7 separate regions of the Homo sapiens genome follow, and all the other regions are reported to be linked to region 1. Evidence: microRNA targets listed by miRTarBase, many of them from high-throughput screens and not tested one by one. Region 1 holds a microRNA gene; each other region holds the end of a gene's coding sequence.

What was found. The annotated mature microRNA hsa-miR-3136-5p reads CUGACUGAAUAGGUAGGGUCAUU and lies in region 1 at 1,372-1,394, opposite strand. An mRNA with a match to its seed (bases 2 to 7 or 8) in the 3' UTR can be bound and repressed. Matches are read on the target gene's strand: a 7mer-m8 pairs with bases 2 to 8, a 7mer-A1 pairs with bases 2 to 7 and ends in A, and an 8mer does both.
Region 2: the mRNA of SLC25A45 is a reported target of hsa-miR-3136-5p. The part of its 3' UTR that is shown has no 7-base or 8-base seed match.
Region 3: miRTarBase lists SERTAD2 as a target of hsa-miR-3136-5p. Seed matches in the 3' UTR shown: 7mer-m8 at 2,389-2,395.
Region 4: miRTarBase lists DAAM2 as a target of hsa-miR-3136-5p. Seed matches in the 3' UTR shown: 7mer-A1 at 966-972.
Region 5: the mRNA of CYP4F11 is a reported target of hsa-miR-3136-5p. Seed matches in the 3' UTR shown: 7mer-m8 at 1,673-1,679.
Region 6: the mRNA of MTPN is a reported target of hsa-miR-3136-5p. Seed matches in the 3' UTR shown: 7mer-m8 at 195-201.
Region 7: miRTarBase lists NDOR1 as a target of hsa-miR-3136-5p. Seed matches in the 3' UTR shown: 7mer-A1 at 2,558-2,564 and 7mer-A1 at 1,591-1,597.

The regions. Positions count from the first base shown.
Region 1 is chr3:69,047,633-69,050,745 of GRCh38, forward strand. MIR3136 (microRNA 3136) reads right to left here and starts at 1,403; the gene lies at 1,326-1,403. TMF1 (TATA element modulatory factor 1) reads right to left here. Exons shown (of 17, transcript NM_007114.3): 2 at 1-930.
Region 2 is chr11:65,373,651-65,376,763 of GRCh38, forward strand. SLC25A45 (solute carrier family 25 member 45) reads right to left here. Exons shown (of 7, transcript NM_182556.4): 7 at 1,542-3,025. The coding sequence ends at 2,757. It also overlaps a transcript of FRMD8 not described here. Among named protein-coding and RNA genes, the nearest start is that of SLC25A45, 7.4 kb to the right of the region's middle. RefSeq lists an enhancer at 2,975-3,113.
Region 3 is chr2:64,633,360-64,636,472 of GRCh38, reverse strand. SERTAD2 (SERTA domain containing 2) reads left to right here. Exons shown (of 2, transcript NM_014755.3): 2 at 1-3,113. The coding sequence ends at 546. Among named protein-coding and RNA genes, the nearest start is that of SERTAD2-AS1, 2.0 kb to the left of the region's middle.
Region 4 is chr6:39,901,636-39,904,748 of GRCh38, forward strand. DAAM2 (dishevelled associated activator of morphogenesis 2) reads left to right here. Exons shown (of 25, transcript NM_001201427.2): 25 at 178-3,113. The coding sequence ends at 402. MOCS1 (molybdenum cofactor synthesis 1) reads right to left here. Exons shown (of 11, transcript NM_001358530.2): 11 at 2,535-3,113. Among named protein-coding and RNA genes, the nearest start is that of DAAM2-AS1, 5.8 kb to the left of the region's middle.
Region 5 is chr19:15,910,934-15,913,933 of GRCh38, forward strand. CYP4F11 (cytochrome P450 family 4 subfamily F member 11) reads right to left here. Exons shown (of 12, transcript NM_021187.4): 12 at 1,444-2,976. The coding sequence ends at 2,799. It also overlaps the pseudogene LOC729654. Among named protein-coding and RNA genes, the nearest start is that of CYP4F2, 14 kb to the left of the region's middle.
Region 6 is chr7:135,927,244-135,930,356 of GRCh38, forward strand. MTPN (myotrophin) reads right to left here. Exons shown (of 4, transcript NM_145808.4): 4 at 1-2,769. The coding sequence ends at 2,683. Among named protein-coding and RNA genes, the nearest start is that of MTPN, 49 kb to the right of the region's middle.
Region 7 is chr9:137,216,247-137,219,246 of GRCh38, reverse strand. NDOR1 (NADPH dependent diflavin oxidoreductase 1) reads right to left here. Exons shown (of 14, transcript NM_014434.4): 14 at 1-2,975. The coding sequence ends at 2,831. It overlaps LOC122513141 (ring finger protein-like), which reads right to left and starts at 1,753. Exons shown (of 1, transcript NM_001395982.1): 1 at 1-1,753. The coding sequence starts at 1,250. The coding sequence ends at 645. RefSeq lists enhancers at 1-562, 563-1,302, 1,303-2,042 and a silencer at 1,706-1,883.

The sequences.
Region 1 (3,113 bases):
TAGGCACTAAAGCATATCCCTTGCCTGACAATTCATCATCTGAATTGATTTCACTTACACTCCGGCTATCTAATGACTGTACACTAAATGAGTCTATTCTTTCAAAAGCATCAGATGAACAGCAACTCTCAGTGAGTTTTTGGAAATCATCTAAACGATTATATTCAGGACAAGCAGATGCAGAGAGAAGCTGAAAAGATGTCTGCATCAAGTGAAGACTTGATTTTGAATCTGTAGTCTCTTGTCTCGAGCTCGCTGAGCTCTCACTTATTACACTTTCATGATCTAAAACTTCAATATCACTGGTGGTAGAAGTACCTGATGAAAAGGTACTAACAGGAGGAGAAGGTGTATTGCTCTGCCTGTCTTCATGTTTTTGTTCCTTAGGTTCCAAAGCTATGTCCTTTGTTTCTGCTGTGAGAGACTGCGTAGACGTATTAGATATACTTTCCATAGTTGTTTTCACATCAATTACACTTTCAGATACTTTCAAACTTACAGTTGGCACCTTCATATCCGATTCTTTATTAACAGTTTCTTCGTGCTTGCCTTCAGTTTTAGGTGATGAAGTACCTGCTGCCAGAGTTTCCCCTGAAACACACAAAGAAGAGTCTTTTACTTGTGATTCAGTTGTTTCAGGAGTTCTTGACTGGCCAATGTGCAAGGATTCATGTAAGCTGCTTTTCACTTCTTCTTCTGGTCGTTGTGATTTTGCTGGAGGTTTTGATACCACTGGACTCTTCTGAATGGTCTGGACATCAGTTGGCGAGAGAAAGGCACTGAAGAAATTTTCAGATTCATCGACCACAGTCCTCCGAACTGGCTTTGTGATTGCTTTAGGAGAGGCTATTGGTGGACTCTGAGGTTCAGTGTTTGATTTCAACCCCCAGGTTGAAGTATCCCATCCTCCACTGACAGGGGAACTTATTCCTTTAACAAAAAAGTAAATATTAAAAAAGAACACATATATGTTACATTAATATTTCAATCATCATTATAAATCAGTATAAATATAAATTTAGAAAAAATACCCTATGAAATACCTGTAATTTGCACCTGCTAAACTCCTTGCTTACTACATCATTAAGTAGTTTCCAAGTTAATACAGGGACTTACGGAAGAAAACTGGTGTGGGTCCACCTGAGAGGAAGGAGGAGCACAGACAAAAGACTGGGCCTGGCCTGGACTACCAGATGCGAGTATGTTATTCCTCCCCACAACAAATTAAGGAAGTAACAGTATATGTTTTATAACCCACAGTAAGTCCAAGATACCTATGATTCATCTCATAATAACACGCTTTACTTATCAATATGAAATAAACTAATATGGAACTAACTGAATAGGTTGGGCCATGTGCAGTCACAGAAAAATGACCCTACCTATTCAGTCAGTTTCATATTAATTTTTACTTGTAATATCAGTAATATAGTTATGAGCTAGACAAAGGGCAACACTCAAAAACTGAACTCAGTGGGTATGGAGGTTCACACCTATAATCCCAACACTAGAAGAGTCATTTGAGTCCAGGAGTTCAAGACAAGCCTGGGCAACATAGTGAGACCCCTGTCCCTACAAAAAAATTTTTTTAATTAGCTGGGCCTGGTGGCCCACATATGTGGTCCCAGCTACTCAGGAGGCTGAGGTGGGAAGATCATCTGAGCCCAGGAGGTGGAAGCTGCAGTGAGCCATGATCAAACCACTGCACTTCAGCCTGGGTGACAGATCGAGAACCTGTCTCGAAAACAAACAAAACAACAAAAGCCTCAAACCAAGATAATGGTGACAAATGTTCTTTCCCGAAGATCATATTAAACTGATGGGAATGGTAAGTTCTAGAGAACAAATTCATTTTCATCCACTTAATCACAGGCTGATTCTCTAAATCCCACTCTCCAAGCCCACTCTAAGAGGAAGTTTTGTTCTCAAATTCTAAATTATGTCAGAAATTACAAGGTCATTATAAATTTCAGAAATGTGTGTTTTTTTAAGAACTATTGCTCTTTGACATAGAGGTGGTTGACACTAGGGTTTTTAAAAAAGCGCTACAAAGAAAATGACTGTTTTCTTGGGGAAAAAGTTAATTATCATATCAGTCATACAAATAGCTACTACTAAAATCCTGATTTTTAAAAATGGCATAATCAGGATCTTAAAAATGGTATATTCGTTAAAGTATTTAAAGCATTTCTTTAAAAATGTTTTCTTTTTCAAATTAAAATGTGGCTGAACAAAATATTCACAAAATATTCACAATTAGAAGTTGGTGGAGAGAGCACAAGTAACTAAAAGCTTCTAAAAACTATCAAGCCTTATAGTAGAATCTATCCTTTAATATGACTTCAGGCCAGGCGCAGTGGCTCACGCTTGTAATCTCAGCACTTTGGGAGGCCGAGGCGGGCGGACCACCTGAGGTCAGGAGTTCAAGACCAGCCTGGCCAACATGGTAAAACCCTGTCTCTACTAAAATTACAAAAATTAGGCAGGTGTGGTGACGCAAACCTGCAATCCCAGCTACTCGGGAGGTTGAGGCACGAGAATCACTTGAGCTCAGGAGACAGAATCTGCAGTGAACAGAGATGGCACCACTGCACTCCAGCCTGGATGACAGAGTGAGACTGTGTCTCAAAAAAAAAAAAAACAAAAAAACAAATATATATATATGTAAATATATGTATGACTTCAAAGGCAGTTAGGATGAAAAGTATGTAGAAAACTTCAGTTTGGAGGCATAGTTCTACACATTCATTTGCACAATATCCAAACCAGAGAAAATCAAAATTAAATATGCAAATGAACAACCAAGATTATGTCTGATTAATTTAAATACATTCAAAAGATGACAGGAATTAATTTTGCCTCTTGGAGAATACTTTATATAATCCCAGGGTTATTTGGTATCCATCTAAATTATACCATTCTGAAGACTATGGGCATTTTCCGAAAACAAATATCCTTATATGTAAAACCTATATTCTATCTTATCTAAAGTTTAGTAATTCTAATTAACTGGGGCACATATGAAAAAACAGAGTTACTCCAGCAAGGTTATATGACATCTTGTAAAAAGTAAAGAGGATCATCACATACACACATGGACCAAAATATCTTAA
Region 2 (3,113 bases), not on the chromosome of region 1:
ATCAAAACTCACTGCAGCCTCAACCTCCCAGGTTCAAACAGTCCTCCCACCTCAGTCTCCCAAGCAGCTCTGTCTACAGGCACAGTGCCACCACACCTGGCTAATGTTTAAATTTTTGGTAGATACAAGGTCTCACTATGTTGCCCAGGCTGGTCTTGAACTCCTAGCCTCAAGTGGTCCTCCTGCCTCGGCCTCCTAAAGTGCTGTAATTACAGGTGTGAACCACTGTGTCTGGCCAGATGCTGCATTTCTAATAAGCTTTGCTCCATGGACCACACTTGGATTACCACTGACTTAGAAACTCACAGTACCTTACCCACTGAGTCAGGATGAAGCTTGCTAAACTGTTGCAACAAGGGCCTAAACTGTTGCAACAAGGACAGAGCCAGGTGCCTCACGCCTGTAATCCCAACGCTTTGGGAGGCCAAGGCGGGTGGATCACATAAGACCAGGAGTTCGAGGCCAGCCTGGCCAACATGGTGAAACCCTATCTCTACTAAAAATACAAAAACTAGTTGCAGATGGCCTCCAGCCATCTGCAGCACATGATCTGGTGAAGGAGAGCTCTGATGAGCACGTGACGTAGTATGGTCCCGGCAGGTCTAGCCCAGGGTGGTGTGGGGGGAGTTGAACTTAGGTGACTCGCAGAAGACCCCCATGTGCCCAGGTGGAGCAGGGTAGCCATGTGCCCAGGTGGAGCAGGGTAGCTAAGTAACTGGACACTGCGGCTGGAAGCTCAGAGGCATCTAAGCAAATTGTATGATTTACCCGCGGTGTGACCTAGGACAAGTTACATAATGTCTCTGAGCCGAGGCTGCCTCTCTATCAACTGTGATCATAACACTGTGATTGTTTCTACAGGGAGCCCCCAGTAAATGGCAGGAATTCAGGTCACCATGAGGTGGACTCACGTTGATCTCAGACCAGATAGGGACATTAGTGGGTACAAATGGCCCTTGATGCTCAATTTTGTTGTCAGTTAAAAGAACCCTCTCAGCCAGTTTTTAATTCCCACTGAGCAAGTGAGATGGGTAAAGAAAACAACAGTGGCTCACACCTGTAACTCCAGCTCTTTGGGAGGCCAAGGTGGGAGGGCTATCTGTGCTCAGGAGTTCAAGACGGCCTGGGCAACATAGTGAGACCTCCTCTCTACAAAAAAATTAAAAATTAGCCAGGTGCGGTGGCACACACCTGTAGTCCCAGCTACTCAGAAGACTAGGGTGGGAAGATCACTTGAGTCCAGGAGTTCAAGGCCACAGTGAGCTATAATGGCACCACTGCACTCCAGCCTGGGCAACAGAGTGAGACTCTGTATCTAATAAAAGAAAAAATAGAGAAAAAGAAAAAGAAAACAAGCACCATTGGCTGGGAGTGGGCAAAGCAGACAGACCCCCAGCTCCCAGCATCCTCCACTGCAGGTGACCTCGAGAAGGGTCAGAGCAGGAAAATGGGGGCTGGGAGGTTCAACAGAAAGCTGTGTGGCAAGACCAGGGAAGCAGGTGTGGCAGCTGGCGTGAAGAGACAGGTCAGGAGTGCAGTCGCATCATTTAACGAGCATTTATTGCACACGTCTGTTCAAGCACCAGGCTCAGGCTGGAAACCATCCAAAGCGCAATCCCTGACCTCAGGCAGCTCACAGTCCAGTGGGGAAGCCGAGAAGCAAATTAATGACTCTGAAGAAGCGCAGGCAAGTGCTATGATCAAGGCATGTGTGTGGGTAGGGTGTCTGGGAACCCCAAAGTCAGCCTCAGGTGGGGAGGTAAGTCAAGGAAGGGTGAGGGGACTGGGCTCAGCCTGGGTCTCGGAGGAGAGCGGGGCCAGCCCCGGGGATGGTAGAGTCAACCTGCCAGGCACTGTGCACTGCTGGCCAGGCCCGGCCAATGAGAGCACAACTTGTTCAGGGTCCAGGAAGCAACCCCAGGAGAACAAAGCCTCGTGGGGAGGGAGGAACCTGGAGGGTGGAAGGAGTTTGGGCTTTTCCTGAAGGTGATGAGAGCCACTGAAGGATTCTGGGGGAGGAGACATAGGGTTATCCTGGGTCATGGGGGAGAGAGCTTTGAAAGGCAGGGAGGTGGGAGGCCGCAGGGACTCTCAGAAGTGGAGTCTCAGAGCTCCTTAAGAGGTGAAGGCAGCCGGGCGCGGTGGCTCACGCCTGTAATCCCAGCACTTTGAGAGGCCGACGCGGGCGGATCACAAAGTCAGGAGATCAAGACCATCCTGGCTGACATGGTGAAACCCTGTCTCTACTAAAAATACAAAAATTTAGCTGGGTGTGGTGGCGGGCGCCTATAGTCCCAGCTACTTGGGAGGCTGAGGCAGGAGAGTTGCTTGAACCCGGAAGGTGGAAAGGCGGAGGTTGCAGTGAGCCGAGATCACGCCACTGCATTCCAGCCTGGGTGACAGAGAAAGACTCCATCTCAAAAAAAAAAAAAAAAAAAAAAAGAGGTGAAGGCACAGGACAGGAGCTGGGATGTCACCAGCACCACTTGCCAGCTCACTTGTGCCTCATGCTCCCTGTTTCACAGATGTGGGAGGCAAAGGAGTCAAGGCCAGCTACACAGGGAGGCTGCACAGGCCCCCTGGCTTCCGGCTCCCACAGGTGTCTGCCCAGCCCAGATCTGCGCGGGTGGGAGGCACCTTGGTTAGGAAGGGCTGAGCCTCTTGCACTGATTTGCAAGCTTTCAACCTGGCCTCCAATCTCAAACTGGCCTCCAGGCCGTGGGCCTGATGGGGAGCTGCTGGCATTGCCGCAGGGCTCATCCCCACCAGCGGAGGAGATATTCGTAGCTGAGGAAGGTGACAGCATTGACGGGAAAGGCGCGGGCACTGTTGATGGTGACCCCCCGGAAGAAGACTCCCAGTCCTTCCTGCCGGATGCTGCTCACCATGCAGTCCAGCATCCCCTGGTACACTCTGCGTCTCAGTCCATCCATCTGCATCCGGGACTTGATCATGTCTAAGGGCGTGGCTGCCACCCAGGAAGCAATGCCTGCAAAGCCCCCTGCCACCAGCACCGTGGCTGAGCCTGGGGCAGAGAGAGCCCAGAGCAGGGGTCAGACCCAGAACAGAGCATCCTCCCCAGACCCTAGTTTCCTTCCCCAGTCCCCGCTGGA
Region 3 (3,113 bases), not on the chromosome of region 1:
TCACTGCTCGAGGACGACGATGACACGTTTTGCACCTCCCAGGCCATGCAGCCCACGGCTCCCACCAAACTGTCACCTCCAGCCCTCTTGCCAGAAAAGGACAGTTTCTCCTCTGCCTTGGACGAGATCGAGGAGCTCTGTCCCACATCTACCTCCACAGAGGCGGCCACGGCTGCGACTGACAGTGTGAAAGGGACCTCCAGCGAGGCTGGCACCCAGAAACTCGACGGTCCTCAAGAGAGCCGCGCAGATGACTCAAAACTGATGGACTCTCTGCCTGGGAATTTTGAAATAACGACGTCCACGGGTTTCCTGACAGACTTGACCCTGGATGACATCCTGTTTGCTGACATTGATACGTCCATGTATGATTTTGACCCCTGCACTTCCTCATCAGGGACAGCCTCAAAAATGGCCCCTGTGTCTGCCGACGACCTCCTCAAAACTCTGGCTCCTTACAGCAGTCAGCCTGTCACCCCAAGTCAGCCTTTCAAAATGGACCTCACAGAGCTGGACCACATCATGGAGGTGCTTGTTGGGTCCTAAGACCCAGGGACCCAGCGACTATGCCCACCCAGACCCCAGAGCGTTCCCATAACCCTGACAGTTCTCCACACTGTGCATGCACCCTTGCTTGCCTTTTTCAGAGAAAAAGAAAATTTTACAACAGGATCACACTAGTTTTTGCTTTGAGCAGAGTTGGAGTGCCTTCATCCAAGTATGACCACTTTTAATACACTTTTTTGAGTGGTTCCTCAGAGACCTACTACCCTGGTATAGGAAAGAATCCATTTGAAGACAATGTTGCAATGTTGAATGACAAAAATAAACAGTTCAAGTGAAGCACAAGGATTAAGTTGGAAAAGCTGTAAATTGCATGTGCATATTTGTCTATTTTTTCTATAAGTTTTATTGCAAGAGGTAAAGAAGAAAACTATATATATATATCTTATTTAGATAATCTCAGTACCTTTTCTGGCATTTTTGCCCTGTATAGGTTGACTTGGCAATTCGGCCTTTTTAGAGGCATTAACTACTCCTCGTAAGTGTTGCATTTACATGGCTGTTTAGAAAACTGCTGCCCAAATTTATTTTATATTTTTGTACAGATTCTGCAGTTTATGATATTGTTTTTCTAAAAACAAATGCTGTTTATACATATGAGATAGCTATTTTGATAGGATTTGCTCACATAGTTCCTGCAAACTTCAGATGTACAAGTTGCACTTGTACTTTTATAGAGTTGTAATGTTTTATATGTGTATGGTGCAAGAGAAAATTGGATCAAATCAATCTGCAGTTGATGTCCCCAAATGCAAACACAGGCACACACATGCACACACCCATAAACACACACACAGTGCTTTAAGAAAGGGCCAGGTGATATCACACCCAAATTTCACAAGCACTGACCCCCTGGCACCAACACCCGCCAGTACTGTGACTTCCAAAGCCAGAGCCACATGTGCTCATCAAACTTGCATTAAGCAGTTGGCGGGAGATGGCTGTGGAGCTGGGGGTTTAAGTGATGGTTCTCTTTTGCTCCCTCTTTTGAGGGTAAAGCTACTGTCTTTCTTAAGAGTGTATTTATGCCAAGTTTGCGCTTTTAATTGTTTTTATTTTGTTTTTTAATGAAAACCCAGATCTTTCCTTTTTGGCATAATTTTTATGATGACCTGAAATTTTACATCCGAACAAAATTTTACATCCGAAAAGCAACCAACTTCTTCATGGAACTCAGCCCTGTTGCAATGCTTAGGGCCCTTAAAGAAGAAAATCTCCCCAGAAGGCATCCATCATGTTGCTTAATTGTCTTCTGCAGCTTCCTTTCCCTAGAGCTTTCCCTGTGTTGCTAAGAGCTGAAAATGGCATCTTCGTGATCACCACAGTGAGCTTGGCTCGCCTCGGCCGGCCCGGGATGCACTCTTACAACATGTGTGACTCTTGAACCTGGAGTTCATCACATTACGTCACAGCTTCCCATCTGGTTGCTTTCCTGAGTCAGCTACTTCACACTTGTCAAGGCTGTTTTACCCCAAAACTCAGACAGGACTTTCTATGCATGTTTTCCCTCCTCCCCCCAATTCCCCCCCCCATCACCTTATCTCCCAGGACACACTTGAGAAGTAGCTTTTTATTCCTAGTGGTGTACATTTAATTTTAAAAAGGTTGCAATGTATCATGCTTGTTGCCGAAACTGTTTATGGCCTTCTTGTTTCAGTTTTTTCTTTTCTTCCAATGGTACTTTAGCTGTTGAGTGCAGGTTACAACCTATATTGTTATGCAGATGGCTTCTTTAGGAATAACTTTTATATTTATTTAAAAATTTTTAAATTATGGGATGTTTTGTTGTTGTTGTTGTCTTTGTTGTTGGTCATTTGTCAATATTCAGTCACCAATTCTGCTCACTTCTTGCCATGGATAAAATTGGGTCTTTCTGGCTAATTAAAAAAGACAACTTTATAAAATGGCACTTTAAGCAAGCCATAGTTAGTTTTATTTTTGTAATGCACATGGCAAAGCAAAGACGTTTGTGATGAAGGAACTGCTCATCTAAGCAAAAGATTTGAGTATGATATGATAAAGGCTTTCTACATTCTAATTTACTTTTTCCCCCCACTTGAATGTGTTTTAAAGGCTAATTATCAGCTCAGTAGAGCAGTGAGAAACTGATCAAATTGCACTTGTTCTCCTACAAGCAACCTCCACGCAGACACCTCGTACTGCTACAGGTGTGTCATTTCCTTTAATAGGACCAGGGACCATGTAACTGAGGTGAGGGTTGTAGTAGATGCTTCCAGTGTCAGTATGCCTGTTAATTTTAAGAGCTTCCCTTTCTTGCAGAGAACAAGTCTGCCCAGATTCCATGCTTTCTATAACTGGAGGACCTGGCAAACCTGCCGCATGCTGCACACATCTACCTACGTACACATATACAATAGTATTGATGATTCTGAACAATAACAGGGTAAAACAGTTGGTTTGCCATTGTTAAAAACTGATTTACAGTAACTTACAACAACTGTACTTTTGTTGGATTAGCAAATCATGTGTTTAAACAAATCCCATATGTTGGGCAACAGTTCAAATAAGCACGGAGAAGTGTTGCCCAA
Region 4 (3,113 bases), not on the chromosome of region 1:
GGGAAGAGAGTGGTGTGAAGCTGGGGGCCTGTATGTCCTAGGCAGGAAGAAAGTGGGGCCAACAGATACAGGCAGGCAGCATGACCATGGCCTAGGAGTTAGCCCAGGGTTGGGGGGCTGCCCTGGCCTCAGCGCCTCTCCCTGAGAGGGTTCCTATCTTTGGCCCCCCGCCCGCAGCTGAAGGAGCAGAGGGAACGTGAGCGGTGGCAGCGGCAGCGGAAGGTCCTGGCTGCAGGCAGCTCGCTGGAGGAGGGAGGAGAGTTCGATGACCTGGTGTCGGCCCTGCGCTCTGGGGAGGTCTTCGACAAGGACTTATGCAAGCTCAAGCGCAGCCGCAAGCGATCAGGGAGCCAGGCCCTGGAAGTTACCCGGGAGCGGGCAATAAACCGGCTAAATTATTGACCTGGGGAACTAGCCACACAGGAGGCCGGGAGACAGGGACTGGTGAGAATGGGGCTGAGTGGAGGAGGTGGTGATATTTAAACCATTTGGTGCTTGGTTTAGAGCCTTGGGCTGGGTCCTGGGATGGGGGGCTGTGTGTGGCTGGACCAGGTGTCTCCCCACGCTTACCTTAAGGGGCTCCTCTTATCTCCCCTTCACATGATTCCTTCTGTGCCCTGGCCCCAGGTATTATTCTGAGGCTGCCTTGGATGGCCTCAGGCCAGGTAACCCCAGGCTGAAGGGGCCCTGCTCCCCATCCCCTACCATGGGCACCCATGTGCTGGCACAGAACAGTTCCAGATCTAGACTGGAGAGGTCCACAGCCTTGTCCAGAGTTCCTGTGTAGCACGGGGAGCAATGATGGAGGGAGCCCCTGAGAGGGAATCTGGTGAGGGAATCCAGACTCCCTTCTCTCAAGGGGAGGCTCAACAGAACATTGACCTGGGGGCAAACTTTCCTCTTGAATGGGAACAGAGGAGGCATTATATATTCTAGTTAGATCAGCTCTGGTAGGTTCCAGAGAACAGTCAATGTTGGAAGGATGATGCAGGGACCAAAGCCATCAGGACAGAGTAGCAGTGTCTGTTTCCCATGTCACAAGTCCTCTGGCCTCTCCCTGCATGTCTTAAGTATCTTTCCCTTCCTTCTCTACCCTCACCTCCATCCTGTCTACTAATCCACAGTCCTAGAAGACTCACCTTGGGTTTCCACAGCTATGGCTCACTACCAGGTGCTTGATGAATCTGGCGAGGGGCTCAAGACAGACCTCATGCATCACCACACCTCATGCCTTTTGGGCATCTCCCATGTCCCCATCTCCTGGACACCTGGCCATTGTTGTGAAGCCAGACAGTGACCTCAAATGTTGCCTTGGAGTCCCCTACAGCCCCTCAGCAGAGGGCAGCACTTGAATGCTTAGCTCCATCCCATAGTTCTCTACTTCATATAAATTGCTCAGGCCCTCCCACCCCTTCTCTAACACTAGCTTCAAGGCAGAAGCCACAGCAGCCTCTGTCCAGCCTGCAGGTGGCCACTTGGAACCATGTGTCCACTGGCGTTGGGGAGTTGGTTCCTGAGAGGTCTGAGGGCCAGAGCTGCCCTCTACATTAACATGCTGTCTCTAAGGGTGGCCCCTCCTCTCAGGCGTTCAGATGGTGCGAACAGCAGAGCAGGCAAGGGAAACTGGGGAGATGGGGATGGAGGAGGAAGGCTGATATCCTCTGGGGAGCACATCACCTGAAGGTGCCAAGGAGGAAGGCTGAGAGGGGGGCCACCCCATTTCTGGTACCCAATTTGGTTCTTCAGCCCAACTTGCAAGGGGTTCCTTCTGGTCCTCCCATCCACTGCCACCTTCCATTTTGTCCATCTCATGCTGGCCTTGGTGGATGGGATGGCTGTATCTAGACAAAATTTTTCTAAAACTCCATCAAGGCTCTTATTCAATACCACGTTCCGAGTTGGCCTTTCATCTTCTTTGAGACTGGCCCTGCCTAACCTCTACCATCAATGAGCTCTTGGCCCTTCTGCCCTTCCCTGTGTTTCTCACTTTCCAACCTAATCCCTGGCTCAGGGTTATTGCCAGTGGAGACTGGTGAGCTGGGCCTACTCTCAGCTGCCTATCTTCTGCCTTTCACTTGCATCCAACTCCTGGGGCTGGGACCGTAGTAGCTGCGGGGGGGAAGAAACACAGGGTCGGTGAGCCCAGCATGTGCGTTGGTTTGAGGGGGCGGGCGGTGTGTGTGTGTTCTGGTGGGAGGGATCTGAGCAAGTGCAAGCCTGGCTGACACAGGTGTGAAGAGGCCATCCTGGAACCCAGGTGAGGGCAAGATGAAGGCTTCCAGGCAGAACAGCTGCAGAGAGTTTGGCTATATGCATCTGCAGCCCCAAGAGCTCCCACTGCAAGACAAGTGTTGGGGAAGATGGGAGGTTGTGGGTGAGGCCTCTAAAGGTCCTCTCCCAAACTGACCAGGCTGATGTCAACCTAACCCCCTCAGGGGCAGGGAACAGGGGAGGGCTCCACAAGCGTGTCTGGCATTCCCACCCACCATGGAAGACTGGATACGCACCTGGAAACAAAAGGACTATGGAAGCTGTTCAAGATACATTTGATCTTCAGAAAAGCAGAATTTGGTTCAACTGTTGACAGAGGACACAAATACGTTGTTCCAGAGCTCAGCCTTCTCACTCTAAAAGAAAGATATTTTTCTATTTATTTTCTACATCTGGCCAGTGGCTCTGGTGCTAGATGCCACTGTAGCCAGATCTCCAACAGTGCCTTGGACCATGGACTCATACTCAACTGAGTAAGAAGGGGCTGGTGCCCAGTCGGGGTGGCTGAGCTGGTCCTTAATAGGTTGTTTCTTGGTCTTGCTTTCTTCATGCCCTCCCCACTGCTCCTGCCACCTTTAGATAAGTTTCTCTAGCTAATTTTGTGGCCAATGTAAAATTCGTCATCAACCTAACAAACACAACCTTCTCAGCAGCATTTCTCCCCTGTGATGGAAATAAAGTGTTTAGGGCAGTGGGAGGAGAAAATTCTCCAGGTGAATGGGGAAGGGTCTGTTCCAGCCTCTCCCTACTCCCATCCCATTTCCACCAACTGGGGAACTGTGACTATCTATCTCCCCCGACTTCTACCAGGGATGCCTTCACGCCAAGGCTGTTCTCACCAG
Region 5 (3,000 bases), not on the chromosome of region 1:
TACATGAAAGTTATTATTGCACTCTAGTACTTCTGTGTCTGACAGTTGTCCTTTGGACAAAAACTTTTCTGCCAAATTTCTGTCATTCAGTTTTGTAGTGATTGGCTGAGATGAACCTTCCTAAAGAAACAGTAATGAACTTGCGTAAAAGTTAAGCTGCTTCTGGTTTTCAAACCACTGCAGAATTTTCTCAGTCTTCTGAATAATGGCAGCAACAGCATCTTTTATTAAGCAGTACCCATTATGAAAAAATCCGAAGACTCCATCCTTTATAGCTTCTTTTGTTAAGCTTCTTCCATAATGTTGGTTTGTGTCTCATAGCTATGGGAATGAACAAGATAAACCCTCATGCCAAGCACCAAGAACCCAATCTCTTCCATTAATGGGTCCTTGCTGACCTATTGCTGAATTTTCTCAGATGAGGCAAAAAGGATCATAGCTTTTTTGCCCTGTCTTTACATCCATTATACAGGGCTTATTAAATTTATGGGTCACATTTTCCAGTTTTAGGTATAAATCGTTTGGGGCAGCGGGAGGTGGCCAGATGCCATAATATTTTGGCAAATATTGTCGTAGCTCTAGAAGAACACCATCGGTACAGTCAGCAGCATAAACCATATTATAGAATTCCAGCTCTCTTGGGCCCCTTGGAGGTGGTTGTAACTGTTTCAAAACTGTGCCATCTGGATGTTGCAGTATACCCATTTTGTCCTTCCCATACCTGTGCCCGGCCACCTGATGCAAGATGGGCACACAGCCACTGAGGAAGCGGAGTCTGCCGCCTGCCGGCTGCAGGGTGCCCTTAGGGGTGGCCTCGATCGCCGGTGGGGTCCGCATTTCTGGGGGACCCGGCGCCTCGACCCGGAGCGGGGATGGTGGCTCTCTTGCCATAACGGAGAACAGAAGCGGTAGGGTCAGCAAGAGCAGGAAAAGAAAAATAGGGGGAGGGAGGGGGCGCCGGAGAACCCAGGGGTCGCTCAGGCTCGGGCGCGAGGAGGCCCGGGGGTTCCCGCGGCTGGTGCCCGCTGAGGTGAGGGGAGGGGGCCCATGACGCCGCGGCGGCGCGGGCACTCCCTCTGCCCAACTCTCGGCTGAGCGCGGCTCCCGGCTCAGGCCCCTCTGCCGCCGCAGCCGCGGGCCCAGTAGACACAACCCAGCCGAGGAGCAGCAGCAGCAGCAGCGGCGCCCCGCGCTCCCTGGGGCCCTCCAGAAAGTTTTTTTATGGATATCAGCAATCTAATTCTACAATTTATATGGAGAGACAAAAGACTCAGAATAACCAACACAATATTGAAGGAGTAGAACATAGTTGGAGGACTGACAATATCCAAGTTTTAAGACTTACCGTGAAGCTACAGTAACCAAGATGTTGCGGTATTGGTAAAAGAAAAGAGAAATAGGTCAATGGAACAGAATATTAAAAGCCCAAAAAATAGATCCAAATAAATATAGGCAACTTATATTTGATAAAGGTGCAAAGGCAATACGATGGTCCCAAATAAAAAATATAATGTATTTGGAGATCAGAATCAAGGCCAGAGTAACCGAGTGTAGCAAGGGAAGGAGATCAGCTACAGAAGAGATTAGAGAAGTCAACAGGGTTTAGCGATGCAACATCCCTTAGGCTATGAAAAGAGATCAATGTTTGTAGCAGGATTTTATTTTGAGACACTGACTGAGGTTTCTCTCATTCTCCTACCACCTCACACAGTCAGGTACCTTCACCATCCTCAGGAAAAAAAAAAAAATATATATATATATATATGTGTGTGTGTGTGTGTGTGTGTGTGTGTGTGTGTGTATATGTATATATGTGTGTGTGTGTGTGTGTGTGTGTGTATATATATATATATATAATATATATATATATATACATATCTTATATGCACAGCCCTCTAGGAGAAGAGGTTGTTCAAGGAGCACAGATATTAGAATTTTTGCCTTTGAGTTCCAAAACACAGCCTTTAAAGTCGTGGTAGAAATAACGATCTTGAAAGACAACATTCTTTAACAGCCAGACTTTCTGAGACAGGAAATAATAATGGCTCCATATATTTAGCATTCATTGTGTGCCAGGCACAGCTCTGAGTCCCTTATATTGAGACCTCAGGAAAACCCTGATATAGGTAATGCTGTTGTCTCCATTATATGGTTGAGGGAACCGAGGCACAGAGAGAGGAATTAACTTGCTCAAGTCACGCAGCAGAGCCAGGACTTGAGCCCAAGCAGTCTGGCTCCAGATCCTATGCCTCTGAAAGTAAGGGAAGAGAGTCACAGAGAGAACGCACTGGGAGGGGGAGAAACAGGGGTGGGAAGTTGGTGGAAAAAGGAACTAAAAATTTCTGAGAGCCTGCCAGGGTGGAAGCTGCACCCCTTTCCCTTTGTTCTGAGCTGAGGACTCCAGTCTTGGGAGGACATTCCCAGGACAGATGAAGGGATCTGCCCCTATGGTTGTTTCTCGCTGAATCAGAGTCTCAGTCTTGCTCCTTAAACCCATTCTTAATCCTGTTCCCTCTCCTGCTCAAACACCTCCCAGGGCTCCCTACTGCCCACAGGATAAAGTTTTTACTTGGGCTCTGGGAGAACCCACTAAGGGCCTAGATGCCCTGTGCTCAGCCAGAGAGGCCGTCAGGGTTTTGGGTTCAGAGACGTCACCCTGCCTCCACCCACTCACCTCCCTTTCTTAGATCCCACCAGTCCCCAGGAGCCCCATGCTGGCTGTCAACGAGGCTCAAGCAGAGGTGTCAGCATAGTTTTGTTTCTGGGACTCTACAGAGGTGGGTGGGTGGGTAGGACAGTCACTGTGAGTTCGCACCCAGGGGCTCCACCCGCAGCCAAAGTCCACCCTCTGCGCGCAATATCAGCTCGGGTTTCCTGCGGGGTTCAGTGTGGGTCGGCAGGATGCGGAAGTGCAGCAGGGTGAGCGCCAGGACCACCTTCATCTCAGCCATGGCGAACGCCTGCCCGATGCAGTTTCTGGGGGCAAAAGTGAGGGAATCT
Region 6 (3,113 bases), not on the chromosome of region 1:
CTACTACCTCTCTTCCATGCTTAACTGGGTTTAGAAAGGTGAGCTATGCGTAGAAGAACTACTTGGGATATTCAAGTGCTGTATTTGAACGATAAGCCTATAGATAACAGTCTGAAGCTGCAAGGGAGACTTTGTTAGTACACTACTATAAACAGGTAAACTACCTGTTTGTACTTGATATAGTGCATATGAAATGACTGATTTAATACAAAACTACAGAACATGCAAAATTTTTTCTGAGATGTTAAGTATTACTTCAGTGGAGAACAAAACTTACTTAACCTTTCGCTAATGCATGTAGTACCAGAAAGCAAACATGGTTTTAGCTTCCTTTACTCAAAATATGAACATTAAGTGTTGTGAATTTGTCTGCCAAGTGGTTCAGAAATACATTATAAATAACCTAGTTAAAAAAAGAAACTGTGAACCATCTTGGTCAGTCTATTCTATTCTATGTTTATATGTTATTTTCTCAAGCAATCGCTTCATAATTATAGGGTTTACAAAAAGGTCGAGAAAGAAAAGCGAAGGCGAAATAGCCTCTACTGCATTACAAGCAACATCAGGATAAACTGTACAAAGAATCACATGGTTTCCATACCATGAATGTAGAAAGCAGACCAGGTTTAGGAATGATAGGACAATGCACTCTCTGCAATAGCCAACTACAACAAAACACTTTGAAAGTAAAGGTGAAAATTATATAAAGGGAAAAATTCAAGCCTTTAAATAGCATTATGTCAAGAGGTGAAAACAAAGGTATCAAAACACCCTGTTGCACTACGTTGATAGTTATAGACTGATAGAGTGCCCTCCATTTTCAATGAGGATGTCTCCATATTTTAGTTCAGTGATGTAATAAAGTACTGATTACTGATTTTTAACCCAACTCTTAATAGGCTGCATTAAGACAGCAAAATTAGCCAAATACAACAAAGTATTTAAACCACTACTTTGTGATTGTTTTCTTGGATGTAGGAAAATTACAGGGTTAGGCTAGTTGTAAGTGAAAAAGCCACAGGATTAAAAAAAGGACTCATGGGGAAAAATACACACACACACCCACACACACCTATACACCCACACACCCACATGCCAACCAACCAACCAACCAGCAACTGATCAGTAAAACTTGTTATTAACCAGGGTGACTGTTCTTGATAATAGATTAACCCTGCTGTAGAATGCTATGTTGCCTTTAAAAACCAATTCAATTATTATCCACAATCTGAGTATCAGTCCCTAACCCACCCTCCCCTAAAAATTTGAGGTACATTCAATTATTGCATGACTTGGTCTTAATATTTTTAGCAAGCTTATATGGATGGCAAGTCAAAGGAATCTTAATATTTTAAATGTAAGATATAAAATTTAAGCTTATATATTTTAATTAGCTGTACTGCTCATGAAATAAATATTTGGAAATATGTGTAAATATTTTCTGCAGGTCATAAGAACACCATTTTAGGGCACTGTATTCCAAGAACAGAGAATACATTTTGAAGTTGTCACACTTTATGTAATGCATGATTTATAAAAGCAACAAAAATATATTATGCAGGTGGGTTGGCATATGTTCAGCAGAAGCCTATCAACAACTCTGGGAAACCTGGTTACAAGTGTATTTTTGAAGGGATGGGGCTAAATTTGTCCAAACAGTAAATCTCACCCCAGTGATAGCTTTGGTGCAGTAAGTAATCAGCCTCCAAGATGGGTCTGAGAGAGGCATTTCAAAGAATGTTCCTTAATTCTCAACACATAACCAAGGTCAATCCATTCAAACAGCAAATAAAGAAAATCCATAGGTACTAAGATAACTGTTCTCTCTTCATATGATACTAACAGGCTTATGGCTATGATTCTATTTTTAAATCCCCTTTTACTACCAGCAGGAGTTTGAAAGTGTTTCAATGCTATATAAATGTATGAATCTAGAGGAGAAAAAAATATGCATACTGGAATGGTTTCTCCTTTAGACTTCCAAAACTTAAGATTTTATAAATAAAACTAGTCAGTTTTATCTAAAGAGACATGAAATCCATGTGAAAGGGGAGAGAAAATCCAAAGTTCAGTCATCCAGCAATTTAGGAGTGTGCCCCTCCTCACCTTAACTAAGCTTTCACATAAAGCTTAAAGTCACCGAGGAAAGATTTGGTCACCAACCTTATAGGCAGCGCTCTTAACTATGCCAGGAAATCCCCAGTAGAGTGCATTCTTAAGGCAGAAGGCTAGAGCTAATTGCTTATCTCAGCACCCTAAGTTTACATCACAGCAGCCACTACTGCTCAGACAGTTAGGGCTACCAAATATGTAGAGTTGGCCTTTGTAGAATCAGACCTTCAACACAATCTAATAAATTAGCTAGGGAGCTGAAAAGGTCAAATGTTACTGGTGTATTTTGTCTTTGCTCTCCCTTGGGTATAAGGTGTATATTTTATTAGAAAGGGAAGAGGCTTACTTGATCAGGAATCCCAGTAAAAGCCTGATCATGGTTCCTTTTGCCCCTCCTCCAAAACAATTTTTTTTTTCTGGTAGTCGGATTTGTTATGAATTTCTCTCTCCCCTCACCCCTCTTAAAGTATTTAGCTGAAGAAGCTGGCAGATAGAGAGTGACAGACAGACAGGCAGCAGTGTGAGGCCACAGGAGAGTCATTCTTCCGGAGTTATCAGTCCATCCATCCATCACTGGAGAAGAGCTTTGATTGCCTGGTTGTCAGTGGCTTCAAAGGCGGTCAGTCCATCTGGGCCTTTCACAGTCTTATCAGCACCCTGGAAAAGAGAGGAAAGGGCTCATTAAATGAGCCCACAACTGGGGGAAGGGAATGTAAGACTAGCTCACATGGCACAGGTTAATGTTTACATCAAGAATTAAAAATTCCTTTACTAGTGGAGTCTATTCTACTGCAGAAAAACAAACAAGTTGGCAACATTATGGATTAATTATAAAAATGCCACATTATTTTTCAGGCACTAAGAATTGTAACCCAGGCAATCACTGGCTTTTATTTATACTATCATGGATGAGATGATTAGGAAGAGCACGTTGAGCAAGTTAGATATATTTATCTAATTAGGCTTTAAAAATAATATCCCTATGTGCAGTATGAAACGGG
Region 7 (3,000 bases), not on the chromosome of region 1:
CAGAGCTTATGTTCCAAGGCCTGGGTGGGCCCTTGTCCCCTGCAACACAGGCCAGCGCCAACCCCCACCTGGTCTGGGCCTGATCAAGTGGGGAGAGGAGCCTTTGCAGGCTGAATTTTCGCAGCATGGACCCCTCCCCCGGCTGGCCTGACCTTCAGGGACACACACTGGCCCTTATCTGAACACAGGGTGGGCGGAGTCCCTGCCCTCTCCAAGGAACTGACTCACTGCTGTATCTCTGTTTGCTTTCATGCCTGCTGTGCTCAGCTGGCCCTCGGAGGGGAAGTGTGGCCGGCGTCAGCCCGTGGCCAGTACGGTGCCCGTCTGCCGCAGGGTGAATGGGGTCCTGCTCACAGACTTTCCTGCTGGGCTGGCCTCCTCCAGGAGCTGTCCTTGGGCGCTGGTGTCCTTGGGTTCAGCTAGTGTCTGGGCAGCAGTGCAGCCATGGACTCTGGCAGGGTCAGGCCTCTGGGTAGCCCTGGTTGTGGGTTCAGCAATGGGAGGTCTTGATTGAAGGCCACTGCCCTGGACCCAACCTTGGGTTTTTCCAGCCTGGTCATCAGGCCTCACAGCACCCAGGCATGGGGACGTGGGCCAGTCTGGGCCCCCTGGCCTGTTGGCGGCGGGGCTGTCCTGGGCTCTGCTCAGCGGCCAGAGCGGTCCAGGAGCACGAAGAGCAGTCCCAGCAGCAGGAGCGGCGTGAAGACCAGCAGCAGCCCCAGAAGCTCAAGGGCCAGCAGGCTCAGCAGCGCCAGGCGGCGGGCACAGGGTCCCCGCTCCCGCAGGGTCCAGAGCCGGGCACCCAGGCAGGGTGGACAGGGCAGGAAGGGCAGGCAGCCCCGGCCGCCCACGGGCCCTGCCAGGAAGCGCAGCTGGTAGCGGTGCTCCAGGGAGCCCCAGGGCCCAGGGTTGCGGTGATAGGATGCAGGGGCCTCTCGGCGGGGCTGGCGTGAGGGCCCGTCGGCCTGTAGCAGCTCCTCCTGTAGCCGGCAGATCTCCCATTCCAGCACGGGCGTCTTCTGGCGGCACAGCGGGCAGCGCACCCGGCCCAGGTCGGCACTGGAGGCCGAGCCCAGCAGCCTGTGCAGGCAGCCCACACACAGGCCGTGGCTACAGTTCAGCAGGGCCAGGCGGCGCTCTCTGGGCCCGTAGGGCTCTGTGCAGATCGGGCACTCCTCCTCTTCCCCCTGCCCTGCTGCCTGCTCTCTCCCCTCCTCCTTCCAGGTTGGAAGGGCCCAGGCACCCTCCATGGCTTTGGCCCCCAGCAGGGGCTCACTGGCTGTAGTCTCAGCACCTTGGGGGTGCCCAAGGTCATCCCCTTTGCTTGCTGGTGCTTGGCACAGAGGGTCCAGGCACTCAGGGCCCAGAGAGGACCCAGGTGGACTGACAGGCCCAGAGCTGGAGTCGGCCAGGTGGAGGGTGGGGGCCCCAGGGCACAGTTCAGGGGTGGTGGCCCTGGGGCAGGAGTCAGGATAGGAGGACAGGGACCCCAGGGCGGCGACAGGGGCGGCCCTCAGGGAAGGCAGGGTCTGGGCTCCACCAGAGCTCTGGCACTGACCTCCCGGCTGGCTCTCCTCACTGGAAGTGGACTTGACTGGGGCCCCAGCAAGGCCTGCCTGCTCTGGGTGGATCCTGGGCCCACGCGGTGCTGTCCCCAGCCAGATCTGGCTGGAGCCCAGCCTCAGCCATGTTTAGTCCTGTGCCAGCGACCCGCCGACGACAGATCAAGACTCCAAGACAGCGAGGCGGGTGTGAACAGCCACCGAACTCCTCCAACAGGACTTTCCTTCCCAGTGCCTAAAGCCCCTCCCGGGGGTGGGGCTGCACAACCACGCCCCCTCCTGCCGCTCCTCTTTCCGGCAGTCTCGGCTCCCTAGCGGCACGGACGGCTTGGTTCCGCCTTCCCAGCACCTGCCCAGAACGCAGTCCTGGCGATCAGATCTTAGCCGACCCACTATGCCCTTAAGAACGAGGCAGTCAGGGCGCACATCCCATTAGAGGCAGACATAAGAGCTGCAGAGGCCACTCGGGCACAGGCAGCCCAACAAGGGTGCACCGTGGCGCCCACCCATCCAGCACCCAGCACCCAGGGCACCGGGAGGAGCTAGAGGACGCCCACCCATCCAGCACCCAGCACCCAGGGCACCGGGAGGAGCTAGAGGACGCCCATCCATCCAGCACCCAGCACCCAGGGCACCGGGAGGAGCTAGAGGAAGGAAGGAAGCCTGCGCTAGAAGTAACCACCCAGAGGCCACCATTTACTGCAAGGGTTTTTCTGGGACCAGGAGAGGAAGAGGCTGCTCTGGCCTGGGACACCCCCACTGCTCTCAAGGAGCTGGCATCTCAGTGGCCTCTGAGCCCAGCCTGAGCCCTGTGGGAGTGCGGGGGCAGTGACTGGAATGTGCTGCTGGGCAGGCTGCAGCAGCCGAGGTGGCCCCAGGGCAGAGGAGTGCAGCGCAGCCTCATGGGTGCCCTATGCCACCCCTGGTGCTCACTGGGCTGCTGATGCCGTCCTGGGTCACTGCACCGGTGAGGTGGAGCGGCCCAGGCCACCACCTTGACTGGGAAGGGGGTGGGGGGACGAGGACACAGCTCACTGTCAGGGTGGGGGAGCGCAGGGCTGGCTGGGCAGAGGCTGCAGTGGGGTCAGGCTCAAAGGGTGGGATCCAGGGTCAACAGGAGTGCGGCTGTGCTCGGGAGCTGGCTGTTCCCAGAGGACCAGCTGGCTGGTCCGAGAGGATGACGGCTGCTGGCCAGGAGCTCCCTCGTGGATGCCTTCCTGGGCTCCCAGGAGGATGGCTGTCAGAGGGGGCACGGGCAGCCGCGGGCCTCAGGCCCACGTCTCTGTCTGGAAGCGCCGTGTCTGCTGGAGCCTGGCTAGATACGCGGCTGCGTCCGGGCTGCAGAGTCCACCCTCCTCCTGGAAGATGGACATCAGGGCTTCCGAGACGTCCGCTGGCATGGACTTGGCGTTGCTAGAGGGGCAGGTCGCAGAAGGCG